Regions from separate parts of the Homo sapiens genome. Here region 1 is linked to region 2. The links come from fine-mapping of genetic effects on gene expression. A gene starts in region 2. The other region holds a variant in brackets. All regions are shown on one strand. Distances are from middle to middle.

Region 1 (5,370 bases), 150 kb after region 2:
GACTACTACAACCTCACGGTTCTGGAGGCTGAAAAGTCTAAGGATGGAGTGTCCTTCTCAGTGTGCAGTCAAGATGCCGGCAGGTTTGGGGCCTGGTGAGGCTCTTTGCTTCTTCCATGGTGTCTTTTGCACGGTGCGTCCTCCGGAGGGGAGGAAGGCTGCATGCTTACATGGCAGAAGGTGAAAAGCCAAGAGAGAACCCACTCCCAAAGCCCTCTCAGTAAGGCATTAAACCCACCATAAGGGTGCAGCTCTCATGGCTTAATCGCCTCTTAAAGGCGCCACCTCCCAATACCATTACACCAGCAATCGAAATTCAACACGAGTTCTGGAGGGGAAGGCATTCAAACCCTTGCCCCTTCTCTGAACCGGTGGGACTTGCCCAGCATGCCAGACTGCCTGGGCTCTGACTCCTTCCTCAGCCTGTGTCACTACGGCCCACAGTTGCATCAAAGCATGCTGCTCTCCATCTCCAGACTCCCAGCCTGGCATTTCCAATATTCTCCCCTTTCACAGCCCCTCAAATCCAAATCCTACAGCAAATGCCGGAGATTCTATTTCAGTCCTTTCTTGTCAGGACTGACAGTGTCAGCTGGAGCCCCTGTCCTTTGGGACACCTGTGAAATGGTCCTGAACACCTCAAGTTGGACCCCCTCAATATCAGTTTGGGGGTGTCCCTGATGTCACCCACTAACCCTAATGTGCTTCTCAGCGCCTTCAGTTTCCACATCAACACAACTCCTTATAGGTTAGTACAATCCCTTTGAAAAACTGGCAGTGTTCACTGAACAAATGCCTCCCTATGACCCAGCAATTCTACTCCAAAGAAAACACCCAACAGAAATGAATACTTATGCTCACCCCAAGGCAAGTACAAGAACGTTCAGAACAGCCCTATTCAGAACAGTCCCAAACTGGAAATGATGCAAACGTCTGTCATCACTGGAATGGATAAATACACTGTGGCATATTCACACCAACACAAGGATGAGTCACCTACGACTTCGCTCTCCCACATGGATGAGTAATGCTGTGTGAGGGACCAGCCCAAAAGAGCACATCCTGTTCCCCAAAGCCCTCAGGCGTCAGACCTCTACCCTGTTAGGAAGGACAGTGGCTGAACCTCCCGCTGCATGCAACTGGAGGGGCTGTGAGGAGTGGGGTCTGGAGAAGCTCTTCATTGCAGTCTGGTGTATGCAAGTGTGACAGTGTACTATGGGCACACTTGGCAACCACCACCTGTGGGCAGCATCTGTGGGTGTGACAGACCTCCCTGGACCTGGGCCATGGGCCTGCGGGGTCCCACATCCCACGGTCATGGGCCGTCCACCATCTTCCTCCCTACCTTATCTAATGCCTCCTGGCCCTCCCCACACCCAACAGGGCTCTAGGTCCTTCGTTAAGGCCAGTGGTACCAGCGACACCCAGGCCTTCTCCACAAGCTACAAGGAATCTGCCCAGCAGCCAGTCTTCCCAGGAGGAGGCCGGGGGCCACCGGCTCAGGACTTGCCTTGCATTTTTTTTTTTTTTGGCATGATCTAGGCTCATTGCGACCTCCACCTCCCAGGTTCAAGCGGTTCTCCTGCCTCAGCTTCCTGAGTAGCTGGAATTGCAGGCACCCACCACTGCACCTGGCTAATTTTTTGTATTTTTAGTAGAGACGGGGTTTCATCATGTTGGCCAGGCTGGTCTCAAACTCCTGACCTCAGGTGATCCACCCACCTCAGCCTCCCAAAGTGCAGGGATTACAGGCATGAGCCACCGCGCCCAGCCATTGTGTTTTGTTCCTTGTGGGGATGCACATCCCTCTTCCAACCTGTGGCTACTGCTCTTGGGGTCCTGTTGCTGGGGGCCCTGCAGTAGACTCCACACAGGTCCTCCTGCCTCCTGGGCCCTCCTCAGAGCCTCCACAGGCTGCAGACTCCACTCCCCAGATGGAGGTCTGAGCCCGGCACCCTTCCTGCAAACCACTACCTCACAAAAAAGACAAGAATCCTACACCCCCAACCCAGACCCCTTCCTGGCAGGTCCTCAGGCTGGGCATGGGCAGAGCAAAGACAGACTTGAGGAGGTAACCAGGGTGAAGGCAAACACTGGGCCAAAACCAGTGGGCATCCTGATGTGTGGATTCCAAAGGGACCAGGCGAGCAGGGAGCAGTACTGATGTCAGGGAGGCCGGAGGGAGACAGAGGAAGCCCGTAATCAGGGAGCTTGGGAGCTGCCTGCTGGGCAGGGAGGAGCTGTGGACACCAATCGGGCACTCTCAAGCCCTTCCCAGCCTGGCTGTCTCCCTCCTCTGGCCCTTCGGTGTTTCCCTTGGGAGTGGTGTGGGTCCCTACCTGGACTCATCCTGAGGAAGCTGCCTCCTGGAGCAGGCAGGATGCTGGAGCTCCGTGTGGCC[G/C]GCCCTGGTTCTCTGCGAAGCCGCTCCTGAGAGCCTGCCTAGTGCAGAAGTGCCCCGAGCTGGCTGCTCTTCCTGCCTAAAACGGGGCACTGAGCACAGGAGCCTCTGGATCTGATCCCCTGCCTGTTTTTGTACGGCTCTCAAGCTAGGAATACCTTTTACATTTTTAAATGATTGAAAAAAAAATCCAAGTAATCATGGTGTTAAAATGATATGAAATTTGAATTTCAGTGTCCATAAATCAAGTTGGGACACAGCTTCTCTCATTCATTTACAGTTGTCTAAGTTTCTGTCACTCTTCGGCAGCAGAGGTGAGCAGCCAAAACAGAGACTGCATGGCCTGCAAAGCCTGAAATATTTACCGGCTGCTCTTTACAGAAAGAGTTGGCCGTTCACTACCCTGGAGTGTGGACCTCTGGGCGAGGAACCTGTATCCGTAGCGCTGCCTTGCACGTCCAGGCTCACAGGTGAGTCCTCAGGAAGGAGTCCCGTTGGTTCTCTATGCAGCATGCCAGGCAACAGGGTGCTTGGGAGGGGAGGCAGGCTGGCCTGGGCAGGAGGATTCTTGGAGGCTCCTTTAAAATTCACTGCCTCACTCAGGGTGATGCACATTAAAACTCCATGGAGCCAGGTGTGGTGGCATGCACCTGTAGTTCCAGCTACTCCGAAGCTGAGGTGGGAGAATCACTTGAGCTCAGGAGTTTGAGTCCAGCCTGGGCAACTTAGTGAGACCCTATCTGTTCAAAAAATGACAACAGCATAATAGGACAGCAGTACTCCCCCCAGAACAGTTAATATTAAAATTACGGACAGTACCAAGTGCTAGCATGGATGTGGAGCAACTGGAATCCTCACACACTGCTAATGGGAGAGTAAAATGTTACAGCCATGTTGGTAGGTTTTTTTTTTTTGGAGACGGAGTTTCGCTCTGTCGCCCAGGCTGGAGTGCAGTGGCACCATCTCAGCTCACTGCAAGCTCTGCTTACCAGGTTCACACCATTCTCCTGCCTCAGCCTCCCGAGCAGCTCGGACTACAGGCGCCCGCCACCACGCCCAGCTAATTTTTTTGTATTTTTAGTAGAGACGTGGTTTCACTGTGTTAGCCAGGATGGTCTCGATATGCTGACCTCGTGATCCGCCCACCTCAGCCTCCCAAAGTGCTGGGATTACAGGCGTGAGGCACCGCGCCCGGCCATTAGTAGGTTCTTATAACCGGTTATAACTGGTTGGTAGGTTCTTATAAAGTTAAACATTCACATGACATATGACCCAGCCATTCTGCCTTTAGATATTCATCCAAAAGAAATAAAAATATATGCCTATAAAAGCCTTGCACAAGAATGGACACAGAAGACTTATTCATTAAAGCTCCAAAGAGGAAACGGCCCAGGGGAATATCAACAGGCAAATGAAGAAACAAAGTGTGGTATGTTGAAATAATTGATTACTATTCAACAATGAAAAGGAATGAGCTGCATGCATCCACCTGCATGAATCTCACAAACATCATGCTTAGCTGAAGACCAGACACACAAGAGCAGACACTGGATGATGCCATTTACATAATGTTCCAGAACGGGTGACAGTAATACGTCATGACGGACATCAGATAGGGGCTGCTAGAGTCCAGGGGCAGGGTACTCTCAGAGTTTTCTGGGGTAATAGCAATGTTCTCTATTTTGATGGGGGTGTGAGCCACATGGGTGCATGCATTTGCCAAAATGATTTGAACTGTACACCTAAGATCTGTGTGTCCTATTATGTGAGGAAAAGAGAGATCAGATTGTTACTGTGTCTGTGTAGAAAGAAGTAGACATAGGAGACTCCATTTTGTTCTGTACTAAGAAAAATTCTTCTGCCTTGAGATTCTGTTAATCTGTAACCTTACCCCCAACTCTGTGCTCCTTGAAACATGTGCTGTGTCAACTCAGGGTTAAATGGATTAAGGGCTGTGCAAGATGTGCTTTGTTAAACAGATGCTTGAAGGCAGCATGCTCCTTAAGAGTCATCACCACTCCCTAATCTCAAGTATCCAGGGACACAAAACACTGGGGAAGGCCGCAGGGACCTCTGCCTAGGAAAGCCAGGTATTGTCCAAGGTTTCTCCCCATGTGATAGCCTGAGATATGGCCTCATGGGAAGGGAAAGACCTGACCATCCCCCAGCCCGACACCCATAAAGGGTCTGTGCTGAGGAGGATTAGTAAAAGAGGAAAGAACGCCTCTTTGCAGTTGAGACAAGAGGAAGGCATCTGTCTCCTGCTCGTCCCTGGGCAATGGAATGTCTTGGTGTAAAACCCGATTGTATAGTCCATCTACTGAGATAGGGGAAAACCGCCTTAGGGCTGGAGGTGGGACATGAGGGCAGCAATACTGCTTTTTAAGGCATTGAGATGTTTATGTGTATGTATATCTAAAGCACAGCACTTAATTCTTTACCTTGTTCATGATGCAGAGACCATTGTTCACGTGTTTACCTGCTGACCTTCTCTCCACTATTATCCTATGACCCTGCCACATCCCCCTCTCCGAGAAACACCCAAGAATGATCAATAAATACTAAGGGAACTCAGAGGCTGGTGGGATCTTCCGTATGCTGAACGCTGGTCCCCTGGGCCCCCTTTTTTCTTTCTCTCTACTTTGTCTCTGTGTCTCTTTCTTTTCCAAGTCTCTTGTTCCACCTAATGAGAAACACCCACAGGTGTGGAGGGGCAACCCACCCCTTCACTATTATATGAAAATGATACCTCAATAATAAAATATTCTTAGAAAAACATTCACTAGGTCAAGGTAAAACCCAGAGAGAGCTAGTGACTCAAGACCCCATCAGGCAGGGGATGTGGCCACTCTGGGCCTCACAGCAGCAGGAGGAATTCCAGTGGAGGCTTTAAGCCCAGTGTGATTTGTCCAAGGGGAAGTAAAGCAAGGCTCCTGGCAAAAGCCTGTTTGCTCTGCCCAACCATTTCACCT
Region 2 (5,370 bases):
TCCATAGTATGTTTGTTTGTTTATTTTGAGATGGAGTCCTGCTCTGTCACCCAGGCTAGAGTGCAGTGGTGCAATCTCGGCTCACTGCAACCTCCGAATCCCAGCATCCCGGGTTCAAGCAATTCTCCTGCCTCAGCCTCCCAAGTAGATGGGATTACAGGCGTGCGCCACCACACCCAGCTAATTTTTTTGTTTGTTTGTTTTTGAGAGGAGTCTCCCTCTGTCGCCAGGCTGGAGTGCAGTGGCACAATTTCGGCTCACCACAACCTCCGACTCCCTGGTTCAAGCGATTCTCCTGCCTCAGCTTCCCAAGTAGCTGGGAATACAGGCACGCGCCACCATGCCCAGCTAATTTTTTTTTTTTTTTTTGAGACAGAAGTTTGCTTTTGTCCCCAAGACTGGGGTGCAATGGTGTGATCTCAGCTCACTGCAACCTCCGCCTCCCAAGTTCAAGCGATTCTCCTGCCTCAGCCTCCCAATTAGCTGGGATTATAGGGTTGTGCCACCATACCTGGCTAATTTTTGTGTTTTTAGTAGAGACGGGGTTTCACTACATTGGCCAGGATAGCCTCAATCTCCTGACCTCGTGATCCGCCCGCCTCGGCCTCCCAAAGTGCTGGGCTCACAGGCGTGAGACACCTCGCCCAGCCTTTTTTTTTTTTTTTTTTTTAAACAGAGTCTTGCTCTGTCACCCAGGCTTGTGCCACCACACCCGGCTAATTTTTGTATTTTTAGTAGAGACGGAGTTTCACCATGCTGGCCAGGCTGATCTGGCCTCCATCTCCTGTGCTTAAATGATCCACCCACCTCCGCCTCCCAAAGTGCTGAGATTACAGGCATGAGCCACTGAGCTCGGCCCATAATGTTTTTAAAAAGTATATCTGGAGATATTGACACAATTATGAATGCAGGCTGTAACACTTAGTAATATGGTCAATAAATTATTTTGCAATTTCAAAGTATCATTACAAAACTAATTTAAAAAGCAGCCGGGCGCGGTGGCTCATGCCTGTAATCCCAGCACTTTGGGAGGCCGAGGCGGGCGGATCACGGGATCGAGAGATCGAGACCATCCTGGCTACACAGTGAAACCCTGTCTCTACTAAAAATACAAAAAAATTAGCCGGGCATGGTAGCCGGCGCCTGTAGTCCCAGCTACTTGGGAGGCTGAGGCAGGAGACTGGCGTGAACCTGGGAGGCGGAGTTTGCAGTGAGCCGAGATCGCGCCACTGCACTCCAGCCTGGGCGAGAGCGAGACTCCGTCTCAAAAAAAAAAAAAAAAAAAAAGAAAAAACTAATATAAAAAGCTGTTGAATTTCTAAACGCATTTCCAATTGACCTTTATCAATTGCCAATAGTTTTCAAAGTGACAAATGCTGAAATTTCTAACGTTACTTTGGAATAAGCAAATATCTCTCTTTGTTATAGATCATCTGTAAAACTAATGCCATATTGAAGAAAGCCAAAGTTATAAAACTAAATTTGTGAAACAGCCCTTTATTCTTTCCTTTTCTCTTTCTAGGATGGGTTGAATTAGTACTAAATTTGGGTTTCATAAGGGCGAATTTATCTTTGAAATGGATTTTCCTCCCATCAGGTAGTCTTAATTGCTTTATAAAAATCTAAAATCTAACACAGGTTTTTAAAAAGTAAATTTTTCAAGCAGTTCATTTCCTGATGTTCGGCCCAAAAGTAAACACTGAGTATATACATTTACTTCAAATTAAAAACTGACGACCGGAAAGCATACTTTTAAAGGTAATGTCCTTGTGGAAAAAGAATTAAGAATCACGAGAACGGAACTGCTATTTGCTACCTCTGGTTTTCCGTTCACAGAAGCACGAGGAGCCCAGCGCTGCGGCTCTGCCTCGCTGGGCCACCCCTTTCGGGCACGACCGGGAGCGGGTGCTCCTCACACCGAGCGCCCGGGCGAGCACAGCTGCAGCCTGCGGATGGAGCCCAGAGCCCTGCCCTGCAGATGACGCGCCGCTGCAGCTTCGCCCACCCTCCCACAAAATGGCTGCGGGTGGCGCCAGGGATGCTGGGCGCGCGCTCCTTGGAACTAGAGAGGAGGTGGCCGGGGCGGGGCCGGGGGAGGGGGGTAGGGCAGAGCCGGCGGGAGCCCGGCGCTGATTGGCCGGCCTGGCTGGCGGGCCCCCGCCGCTGGTTCGTAGCCGGCGCAGCGGCCTGGGCTGGGATGTGAGGAGCGGCGGGTTCCGGGCTCCGGGCTCTGGGTGGCGGCGGCTGTGAGCGGCGGCACTGCGGCGCAGGCCAGCGGGCGCCGTCGGCGGCTGGCCCTGTCGGCCGCGGGATGAGGAAGCGGACCGAGCCCGTCGCCTTGGAGCATGAGCGCTGCGCCGCCGCGGGCTCGTCCTCCTCCGGCTCGGCCGCCGCGGCGCTGGACGCCGACTGCCGCCTGAAGCAGAACCTACGCCTGACGGGCCCGGCGGCGGCTGAGCCGCGCTGCGCAGCCGACGCGGGAATGAAGCGGGCGCTGGGCAGGTGAGGCTTCGCGCGGAGCGGGGGGGGGGGGGGGGCCGGTCCCTCACTTTGCGCAGGTGCGTCCCGCAGGGGGCCGCGGTACCTCCCAGCCCCTCCCAGAGTGGCCGTCCGCCCGATCCGCGGCCGCCCCCGTCCGCGCCTGTGTCCCGCATTTGGCCCGCGGCAGCCCCACCCCCGCTCCCTTCCCCAGGCACCGCGGCGGGAGCGCCCTGCCCTGCCGCTGACCCCCTGTGTCCTGCTCCGGCCCTCTCGCCAGGCACTCCTGGCCTAGCCTTGCACCCCGACCCTTTCCCGGGGAAGCCGGGGGGACCCTTACGCTGGGGGCTTGGCGCCGCCCGAAGTCATGACCCCGCGTGGGAGAGCAGGGTAGGGGGTGGGGAGTCCTTGGAAGATCCCTGGACGCCAGGCACAGCAGAGGCGGGAGGCAGAGGGGCCGGCGCCAGACCCTGAGAGCGCTGGGGCCCACTCGGACCTCCTCCTCCTGCTCTGCATCAGGCCCCACACCGAGCGCCCGGGCGGGCGCCCCTCGGGCTGGGCTGCGTGCGCGGAGCCTTACTGGCGCCTTGGGCCCTCGGCGGCTCTCCCCGGTAACTAGGGTCGGGGGCGTGCGTCGCTCAGAACTCGGGGACCTTTGGGGAAGGGCTCAGTGGGCGGCGGGGTGCTAGGGGAAGGAGGGACTCGGAGCATCGCAGCCGTCGGAGGGAAACCTGCCCTTCGCTCTGCTGGTGATGGTTCGTGGTACTTGAAATCTGTCCGCACAAGTTCGCCTCCTTGGGAATCATCTCGCAGTCCTGAGTCGTTTGGTTATTGGCGTTCAATAACCTTTGGGTTATTGGGTAGAAGATGAATGCGTTTATATAAAGCCACTTTCAAAACTGAGATGGGAACGTGTTTCATAGGGACAGATTTCTCCTCCCATCTGCTGGTTTCCTAATTATCTGGCTGTTGTAGAACGTAGCATTCCTGACAGCTTTGAAGCCTTGCTACTTCGTGGTGGTTTGAAGAAGTTACTATATGATGATCTCAGGCGTTGTAGCAGAGGCACTTCTTTTTTGACCATCTGGAATGCCCTTAGTTGACGCTGGCCACTTGAGTGTAAAATATGCGTATCGCTCCTAAGGAAAAGTAGAATTTCAACTTCATTGCTTAAAAAAATCATGAAATTAAACTATAGACACTTCTAAGTCGATGGTTTGACAGAAGGGCGGAGACTGATAGTTTTGTGTCTTTATGTGTAAAATTATGTAGCATCTGATCAATATCTTTTGTGAAACTAATCTGTTCTCTTTGCTATGGAAAGATTTATCTGCATTAAAAACTCATGATTTAACTTTAATACAATTTTATTAACAGACATGGCATAACGCTTAGATAAATTGGAAAATTCTTCCTTCGAAAAAATCAAATTGCCGGGCGCGGTGGCTCACGCCTGTAATGCCAGCACTCTGGGAGACCGAGGCGGGCAGATTATCAGAGGTCAGGAGTTCGAGACCAGCTTGACCAACATGGAGAAACCCCGTCTGTACTAAAAATACAAAATTAGCCGGGCGTGGTGGCGCATATGCCTGTAATCCCAGCTACTCGGGAGGCTGAGGCGGGAGAATCGCTTGAATCTGGGAGGCGGAGGTTGCGGTGAGCCAAGATCTCGCCGAACCGAGATCGCACCAGTGCACTCCAGCCTGGACAACAAGAACGGAACTCCGTCTCAAAAAAAAAAAAAAAAAAGAAAAAATCAAATTGTTTTACACAACGTTTGGGGAAACAGCGGCGACCTGGCACCTTCTTGAAGAATGTACTGTATTAAAATTACCCGATTAATTTTTATTTTCGTGTCAGGACAAAGAGAGACATTCCAGTGGTGTCCATATCCTTTGGATAAGCAAAAGGCTGTTAGGGGTAAAAAGCAAAACAAAGGGAAAGAAGACCAAATTTGTTAGGTTGTCTTCCTTCCCAGCTGGCTGTCTCAGACATCCTTGAGCTTTCTTCTCTTCCTCGCTCAGGCTCTGCGCCACCATCACCTCCTCCTCACTGAGGCCTTCTTAGACCAGCCCACTCCTGTCGACCTTGTTATCACTCGAGATTGTAATTTTTGCTCGTGTGCCTCCCCCGCAACCAGAATGGAAGCGCCATGAGAACAGGAGCTTTGTTTTCTCCACTTAAGTATCTCCAGTACCTGGCACGTAGTAGGTAGCAGAAAATACTTGTTGAATGAACAAATATCCATAGAACAGATATCCATTGCGCCACAGAGCCGGCTCGTTTGTGTCTTTTATGATCCTTCTTTGGATCCTTCCGCACATTTTTTAAACTCTTTATTGTCGACATACGTGGAAGTAGAGAAGACAATCTAATGAGCCTTCTTCATGTGTCCATCACTTAAAAGTTTTCAGTGTTTAGCCAATTTTGAATCATCCATCCCTCTTCTCTTTTTTTTTGTAGGATGAAGGATTGGATTTTTTTTTTTTTTTTTTTTTGAGAAGGAGTCTCGCTTTGTCGCCCAGGCTGGAGTGCAGTGGCAATCTCGGCTCACTGCAACCTCCACCTCCCAGGTTCAAGCAATTCTCCTGCCCCAGCCTCCTGAGTAGCTGGGATTACAGGCGCCCGTCACCGTGCCTGGCTAACTTTTGTAGTTTTAGTAGAGACGGGGTTTCACCATGTTGGCCAGGCTGGTCTCGAACTCGTGACCTCGTGATCCACCCACCTCGGCCTCCCAAATTGCTGGGATTACAGGCGTGAGCCACAGCGCCCGGCCTGGAATATTTTTAAACAATTTTTTTTTTAAGAAAGTTCCGTCACCCAGGCTGGAGCACAGTGGCATGATCATGGCCCACTGCAGCCCAGACCTCCTGGGCTCAGGCGATCCTCCCA

Evidence for each region. PIP is the estimated chance that this variant, and not a neighbour inherited with it, causes the effect. A credible set is the group of variants that fine-mapping cannot tell apart.
Region 1: its variant is the best candidate, but not a certain one, in a credible set for the expression of ABHD12 in monocytes (TOPMed, PIP 0.57).

Annotation. Positions count from the first base shown.
Region 1 is chr20:25,233,595-25,238,964 of GRCh38, reverse strand. It overlaps LOC105372579 (a long non-coding RNA gene), which reads left to right. Exons shown (of 3, transcript XR_001754564.3): 1 at 1-3,827. Among named protein-coding and RNA genes, the nearest start is that of PYGB, 12 kb to the left of the region's middle. RefSeq lists enhancers at 838-1,132, 338-1,537, 862-1,638. The variant G/C (reference allele first, on the strand shown) is at 2,402.
Region 2 is chr20:25,387,645-25,393,014 of GRCh38, reverse strand. ABHD12 (abhydrolase domain containing 12, lysophospholipase) reads left to right here and starts at 2,180. Exons shown (of 13, transcript NM_001042472.3): 1 at 2,180-2,502. The coding sequence starts at 2,312. RefSeq lists silencers at 2,051-2,470, 2,511-2,560, 2,601-2,760, 2,931-3,090.